Linked DNA regions of Homo sapiens. The protein of the gene in region 1 interacts with the protein of each later gene in a biochemical or structural test. Each region holds a gene or a part of one and is shown on either strand. Other genes may lie near its edges.

Region 1 (3,917 bases):
GTCTTACATGGTGGCAGGCAAGAGAGCTTATGCAGGGGAACTCCCATTTATAAAACCATCAGATCTCATAAGACTTATTCACTACCACAAGGATGGTATGGGGGAAACCACCCCCATGATTCAGTTATCTCTACCTGGTCCCACCCTTGACACGTGGGGATTATTACAATTCAAGATGAGATTTGGGTGAGGACACCACCAAACCGTATCACTAACTACGCACTTAGGAGGAGTCACTTAATCTTTCTGAGCCTCAGTCTTCTCATCTCTAAAATGAGGAAAACAATAGTTCGTTCCTTATGGGGTTGTATGAGGTGCAATGCATGTAAGGCACTTAGCACTGGGCCTGGCACATTGTAAGCATTCTATAAATGTTAGTTACTCTTTCCCCTGTTTCCTTCTTGTCCTCAAATTATTGCTACCCAGGCACAGGGAGGAAGATGGGATATCACTAGGGAGAGATAAGGGAGCAAGATGCCCTGGGTGCACACAATCTAGGAAGCTGCAGGATTTTCCCCCAGAAGTATGGCTGGTGTCTACACACACTGAAGGGGCATCTGCCTGTGAAGTAGCTGGTGGTTCTGAGGCCTGTCTGCATCCTCTCCTCTAGTTTAATCCAATTGTCAGTATACCAGTGACCAGGAGCTGCAAGTCCTCCTCTTGTGAACCATTCTTTCACTACTCTGGGATGGATTTGAGGTTGAGAAAGCACAGACTGATGGTTCTCTCTATTCTGATAGATAATTTCCTGAAGGTCAATGCCATCTTCTTAAGTATTGCCTCTAGCTAAAAGTACCATTTGGCTTTTGTTTGTTGGCTTAATTGAATGTTCTTTGGAGATGTGTGTATTTGTACACTGAAAGTAATGGAATTAACCCTACACTTTGAAGATGATCTTCAAGTTAAAATATCTCGCAGCATGAGGAAAGAGGGAAAGGGACAGAGAGCAAGGGTGAGAATGAGAGCAAGACTGAGAGAGTGATATGTATGTCTGAGTAAGGCAATGAGTTAGGAGAGAGAGAAGCCCAGGCAGTCTTCCTTCTTTATTGCTGAGAAGTCACATCCACAGAGACTGGCCCACATCCTAATTCTGGGCCAACAGCTCCATTGTGCAATACCAAAGGTAATTCTAAGTTGTGTTCTTTTGCTTTCCCCCAAGGGATTTTTCTGCAAAGAAGAAAAAGACTTTGATAACTGGTGTAGCCTTGTTCAGAAGGTAAAGCTATATGTTTTTCTTAGTCTGAAAAATGAAGTTACCCAATTTTATTCCTTTTCAAGATTGTTTTTCATAGTAAAAAAAAATCCTACTCTGATACGACTTTACTGCAAGAGAAAGAAACTAAGGCAACAAAGAAACTATCAGGTGTGGGGAATTGTGCATAACTTCGGGGAAACTGAACAAAAATTTTGGTTTGAAATATGCTTAGCATGTCAAGGGAGTGATATTTTTAGTGATGAAACCTAATGTTTTATCTCATTAATAGACAATTATTTTCTAAAGGCAATACTTACATTTTAGAATGCAGCAAAACTGTATTTATGTCACATTTAAAGGTGGAATGAGAATTTTCTGATAAGACTATGCCTTTTATTTTATTTTATTATTTTTTGAGACAAAGGCTCGCTCCGTCACCCAGGCTGGAGTGCAGTGGCGGGATCTGGGTGCACTGCAACCTCCGTCTCCAGGTTCAAGCGATTCTCCTCCCTCAGCCTCCCGAGTAGCTGGGATTACAGGCGCCCACCACCACGCCCAGCTAATTTTTGTATTTTTAGTAGAGACAGGGTTTCACCACATTGGCCAGGCTGGTCTTGAACTGACCACAGGTGATCTGCCCACCTCGGCCTCCCAAAGTGCTGGGATTACAGGCATGAGTCACCGTGCCCAGCTAAGACTATGCCATGTAAATTAGGATATATACCATACATGTTGGACTGCCACTGAAACCATGCCAATATGTAGCAATAGTCTCTTGGGGCAGATTTAATTTCACTAACTGACATTTCTTTGGAGCCAGTGCTTCAGGAACATGTCACCCCTAAAGTGAGCTGGACCCATGCGTCTGGCACAGGCACTATGCCTCATGATGGAGAATAGGCAGTGAGTGCTGGCCTTCATCAGATACTCCCCGCAAAGTCCTTCCTTCCTGGCTAAACAGTATCTAGAATTGAAGATGGCTGAGTCTTCAGATGGTTCAAGTAGAGGATGCATGTATTTTCTAGGCCCCTGTTTTCACCTGGAAACCAGCAGACCACTGTCTCAGGGTTTGGGGTCAAAGATTGCCAATTAGAAATGTTGTGACTCTGAAGTATTTAAAACTGTTTTGTCATCTCCCCAGGAAATTCTAAAGGAGAATTTAAGGATGTTTGAATTAGTTCAGAAACATCCATCACACTGGCCTCCCTTTGTACCTCCAGCCAAGCCAGAAGTGACAACCACTGGGGCAGGTAAGCTGTTGTTCAATGGCTCTCAGCTAGCAGACCCACATATAGCAGTTGTTTTATGAGAAAGAAGAATTGTGGCCCATGCTTTCTGTGGACAGTAAAATTTCTACTCAGCTGGAGTGATAAAAAAATGGCACTTCTGGTTATTTTAATCTTCTGATGAGCTGATATTTACCAATTTCAAAGAATGATAATAGAAGAAAATGAGCTCATTGCAAAAGTTCTATGCAAAATCAAGATGACTAGGATTGCTTTTTCATGGTCTGGTTCAGAATAGCAAATTGAGGCCATCGATAATTCAAAGGTATCTTGAAGGGCTTTCAGAGCCTTGGCCACATCACCGTCGTTAGGTTTATGTAACAAGTCTGGCTATTTTGAGTCTTTATAGATAATTTCTAATACTTGGCAGTAGTTCTAATTGTAAGTCTCCTCCACACAAGTCTTTCTTTAGTACAGCAATTAAAAATGCTTAGTCTTAACTACTGAGTAAAGTATTTACTGACCACTTCAACCCAAGTGTCAAGCTTTTCTTCTTTCTCATTTCCGTATTCTGATAGAATTCATTGACTCTACTGAGCAACTGGAGGAGTTTGATCTGGAGGAAGATTTTGAGATTCTGAGTGTGTAGAATCCTGGGAACTCAACTTGAAGGTCTGTCTTCCATCTGGCACCATAAAAACATGAACTTATTGCATAAAACTTTTCTAGTCAGCAAGTGCCTGATATGCCAATAGCATACAAACTCAATAGCAATCATGACTGAGCCAATCACTGTTTCTCAGAAAAACAAAACAAAACAAAACAAATGACAGTAACCCTTCCCCGGAAAGAAATAGAACAATCATGGAGCCTAGGAGCAGAGAGATGAGGAGGAGTTCATTGCTTCCCAGCTTGTGTTATATGGCTACAGCAAGTCTTCAGCTGCTGCAATGAGGAAATGGGCATCTGGAAGACAAACAGCAACTCTCAGCTTGCTTCAAGAACCAGCAGATAAGAGATGGTTAAGCTGTTCTTCACCCTTTCAGATGTGACCTCTTTTGGACTAAGCAGCAATCTGTTCTCTTGCTCAAATAATAAAGTGACTGAATCAGGGAGGAAAAGGTTCTTGTTAAATTATTTGATTGTGTAGTTGAAGTAATTATAATTTATATCAAAACGTTTGTCAAAGAAACGATGTCAAATATACACTTCTTGATCTCCCTTCTGTTTGCGGGGATCTTACTATTTGATGGGTCACTGTCCCCATTCTTACTGATACTTTTGTCAGATATCACCCTGTCCTTAAATCATGATCACTTAAATCAGGGGTCAGCAAACTTTTTCTGTAAAGGGCCAGACGGGAAATATTTTGGGCTTTGCAGGCCATGCGGCCTCTGTCACATCTACTCAACTCTGCTGTTGACATGCAAAAGCAGCAATAGACAATATGCGTGTAAATGAGTGTGGCTGTAATCCAAGAAAACTTTATTTACAAA
Region 2 (3,917 bases), on another chromosome or scaffold:
AAACCTCTGAGAAGTTAAACTTCCCCCTCAGAATTTGGAGGCCTGAGCTATACACAGCACTGAGCAGGCCACTGCTAGGATGCCTGAGGATCCTGCAGCACAGAGGCAGCTCTAATGCATCTATCCAGCTAAGCTGCACAGGCTTGCTGGATGCCCTGACAACTCGCAAGTAGCACTGCAGCTCCAAGGCTTGCTGCCTAAGTTGCTGGGAGGTGGCTGTAGAGAACACCTGAAGATGGCCTCCAGTCCCTAACACGAATGCACACCCTGTGGCATCAAGTACCACACGCATTCATCTGAGAAAGATGCTGCTCTGAGTACAGAAGCACTGCCACCTTCCAAGCTCTGAGTCTGGCAAAGAAAGAAACGGGTAAAGCCAGTGGTAGATTCAAGCCATGGAGCTAATCTAAGGTGAAGTGGGACCCTGAAGTACTATGTGAAAATGAATTTAAACTGCCCCCTAAAGCCCTCTCCCCAACCCCTCCACTGAATGACACAGATCCAGGTAAAACCACTTCTCCAGTGGAGAAACTGTGCAATAAAAAAAGGAAAGTTGCAGCAAGACCTACATCCAGGAATGGCCATGTGACTCAAGACAGACATCAGTTTATGCTACCAACAGCGCTATGCATTGGGAGAGGCTGACCTAGAACTGTATGGATGCCCAATCCCTAGAGAACCTACGTTCGCCCCAACCAAGGGCAGGTCATGGAGGCTGTGGGGTCTACACCGACTCATGAATTGGCTGGGCTGATGAGCACACCTGGCCACCCATCTGCTTTGGAGTCCACGCGCTTCCACTGGACCTTGGATTATCTCTTCTCCAGCAGGGCAGGATGGGTGGTGGGAGGTGGAAGGGCAGTGACCACTACTGTCAATCCTGGAGAGGCACTGGCTTCACAGTGAAAGTTAATAAGGCCCTGAGGCTCCCCAAGATTCTAAAATAAAAAGATTAACCACTGGTTGTTGTTCCTTTTTTTGTTTTGAGACAGTTTCACTCATGTCACCCAGGCTGGAGTGCAGTGGCGTGATCTTGGCTCACCACAACCTCCTCCTCCCAGCTTCAAGCGATTCTCCTGCCTCAGCCCCCGAGTAGCTGGGATTACCGGCGACCGCCACCACACACGGCCTAGGACAGAACATATTTATCTGATAAAAAGAACAACTAGGCCGGGAGCAGTGGCTCACGCCTGTAATCCCAGCACTTTGGGAGGCCAAGGTCGGCGAATCACCTGAGGTCAGGAGTTAAGAGACCAGCCTGGCCAACATGGTAAAACCCGTCTCTACTAAAAATACAAAAAAAGTAGCCGGGCGTGGTGGCAGTCGCCTGTAATCCCAGCTACTAGGGGGCAGAGGCAGGAGAATCGCTTGAAGCTGGGAGGCAGAGGTTGCAGTGAGCTGAGATCGCGCCACTGCCTGGGCACTCTAGCCTGGGCGACATGAGTGAAACTCCGTCTCCAAAAAAAAAAAAAAAGTCCTGTCCTTAAAGAGGTATTTACCCAGAAATGATCAAAGTGCTTTAAGCACATTTCTAAATAAAGGATGATTAAGTGTGGGGTGAGAAGTCATTAATTGGGCCTGAAGGGTCAGGAATTGGATTTCTGGTTACTCTGTCCTAAAATCCTGACTTGGGTTACTGGTATAATCTGCTTTAGGGTGGATTCTCAGCAGAATGGAAAGGCAAATGGGACTTGGAGAGAAAATGGCCTTGAAGCAGTCTCTGTTGCCCTGAAAATCACTTTTCATTTCCAAAACATCACAACTTCCTTTTACTGAAGATCTCTTTAAGATCCAGAAGCAAATAAACACCATATTCTTAAACAGCACAGGTTTCCCAATGTCAGTTATAATATCTGGCCAGGCATGGTGGGTAACACCCATAATCCCAGCACTCTGGGAGGCCAAAGCAGGAGGATCACCTGTAGCCAGGAGTTTGAGACCAACCTGGTGAGGTAGGAGGACTTCTCAAGCCCAGGAGTTCAAGGCTGCAGTGAGCTATGACTGTGCCACTGCACTCCAGCCAGGGTGACAGAGCAAGACCTTGTCTCAACAACAATAAAAAATAATATCTTAGAGATATTATATTTAATGATATACTCCTGTTTCTATTTTAAACAGGGGATTAACAAGACTCTTATCTATGTTCTAAACAAACAAAGACCAAAGACCATTCACTGCCAGGTCTGAGTTCCCCTCTAACGTCATGACTAGGAAACTTGTACACTGATGTTTTTTCTGAAGTTCTGTCTGAACAAAGGCATGGTTCCCCATTCCGTTTTTGGCCTGATTCTTGATGCTGGCACCTAGGCAGAGAATTCAACTTTCCAATGCTAAATGGGAAAAGGCCATTGTGATTCCCTCTTTTTTAAATGAAACAAGAACTTAGAATTTAGGAAGTAAAACTTAGGGACTTGCCTCTGTCTCTATTTATAGAATCAATATTTAATACTAACTACTCTAAATAAAAATCATGACACTTTACATGGTGACCGCCTGTTTTCCACTCCAAGGCAGAAATAACTGAGAACTCACTCCCCTTCAGCCTCAGACATAATTGATCTTCATGCAGACCAGTCAGTCACCGGAGAGGGAGGGCTCCTGCAGGCCTGAATTCGTCCCTTCTCTAATTTCCCCAGCCACTCTTTGAAGCCAGCAAGCACTGCATGAAGGTTAAGGGAGGCTCCATGCTCCCCTAAGGAAGCTGAAAAGACCTGAGGAAGAGGCTGCTAAATTGTCTTGGGGAAGAGATGGTGAAGCTGAATCACAGCCAGCTTTAGGAAGGACCCTGTAGCACTTTTTATGTTTATGGGTGATTTATATATTGCATAAAGCCCAATGATGTCACACGCCTCTTATGTTTAGAAACAAATTTATATTTTTAGCCCGGTGTGGTGACATGCACCTGTGGTCCTGTCCCAGTTATTAGGGAGGCTGAGGTGAGAGGATCACTTGAACCTAGGAGGCAGAGATTGTAGTGAGCTCAGATTGCACCACTGCACTGCAATCTGGGCAACAGAGTGAGACTCTGTCTCAAAAAAAAAATTACTTCTGAGAATAAAACCCCAAAATAAACAGTTGCATTAAGTGTAGGGTGATAAGTCATTAACTGGGGCCAAAGAGCTGACAGCCTGGGCAAAAGGGCCCTAGCTGGTGACTCTAAATCCTGAAGGGTCAGGAGCTGGATTTCTGGCTACTCGGCCCTAAAATCCTGACTTGAGTTACCAGTGTAATCTGCTTTAGGGTTGATTCTCACCACACTGGAAAGGCAAATGGGACTTGGAGAGAAAATGGCTTGAAACAGTCTCTGCTGCCCTGAAAAATCATTTTTCATTTCCAATTCTATTTCTATCTCAGGGATAACGGGGGAGGGGAAGTTGATAAGACCTGTAGCCATTTTAATTGCTAGATTACTGTGGAGCCATCTGAGTAATCTTAAGGTCTCCAGAAGCCTGCTTCATTTCCTTTGAGAAGAACCAGAGAATCAGAATTGAGGAAAATAAACTCAATGCCATAGGTCCTAGTCACTTATTTTCTCCCACTAAGCCAACACCTCCAGGAAGTACAAAACACAGAGTCACCAAGGCTCTGTAGAAGTTGCAGATGTTATGAAAGAAGATTACCTCCCCAAACACGTTAAGGAAAGCCCAGGGTAACCACGGATGCCCAAGGCTTCCTCCCCTGGTGAAGACACAGCCCAGAGGCCTGGGAAGGAAGGTTAGAAGAGCCCCATGGGTGACAAGATCTCCTCAAGCAACACCACAGCTTCCAGAGCTACAGCTGTGGCAGACCAATGGCGTCCAGTGGGCAGGCCCTGGGGTGTCTCCTCAGGTTGAATACTGGCCTTAGGGAAGGAGCTTCCATTTCTCCCCTGCCTTTCTATCAGACACCAGGAAGTAGAGGTGGAGGACACTGGGAAA

Evidence for each region.
Region 2: of the proteins of ATG4A (region 1) and GABARAPL2, one has a biochemical effect on the other in vitro, tested with the Homo sapiens proteins (one study listed by BioGRID).

Annotation. Positions count from the first base shown.
Region 1 is NC_000023.11:108,150,643-108,154,559, forward strand, and holds part of ATG4A (cysteine protease ATG4A), read left to right. Parts: intron 1-1,159; coding exon 1,160-1,216; intron 1,217-2,336; coding exon 2,337-2,445; intron 2,446-2,999; coding exon 3,000-3,070; 3' UTR 3,071-3,917. UniProt on the Homo sapiens protein: Cysteine protease that plays a key role in autophagy by mediating both proteolytic activation and delipidation of ATG8 family proteins.
Region 2 is NC_000016.10:75,569,229-75,573,145, reverse strand, and holds part of GABARAPL2 (gamma-aminobutyric acid receptor-associated protein-like 2), read right to left. Parts: intron 1-3,917. UniProt on the Homo sapiens protein: Ubiquitin-like modifier involved in intra-Golgi traffic. Modulates intra-Golgi transport through coupling between NSF activity and SNAREs activation. It first stimulates the ATPase activity of NSF which in turn stimulates the association with GOSR1.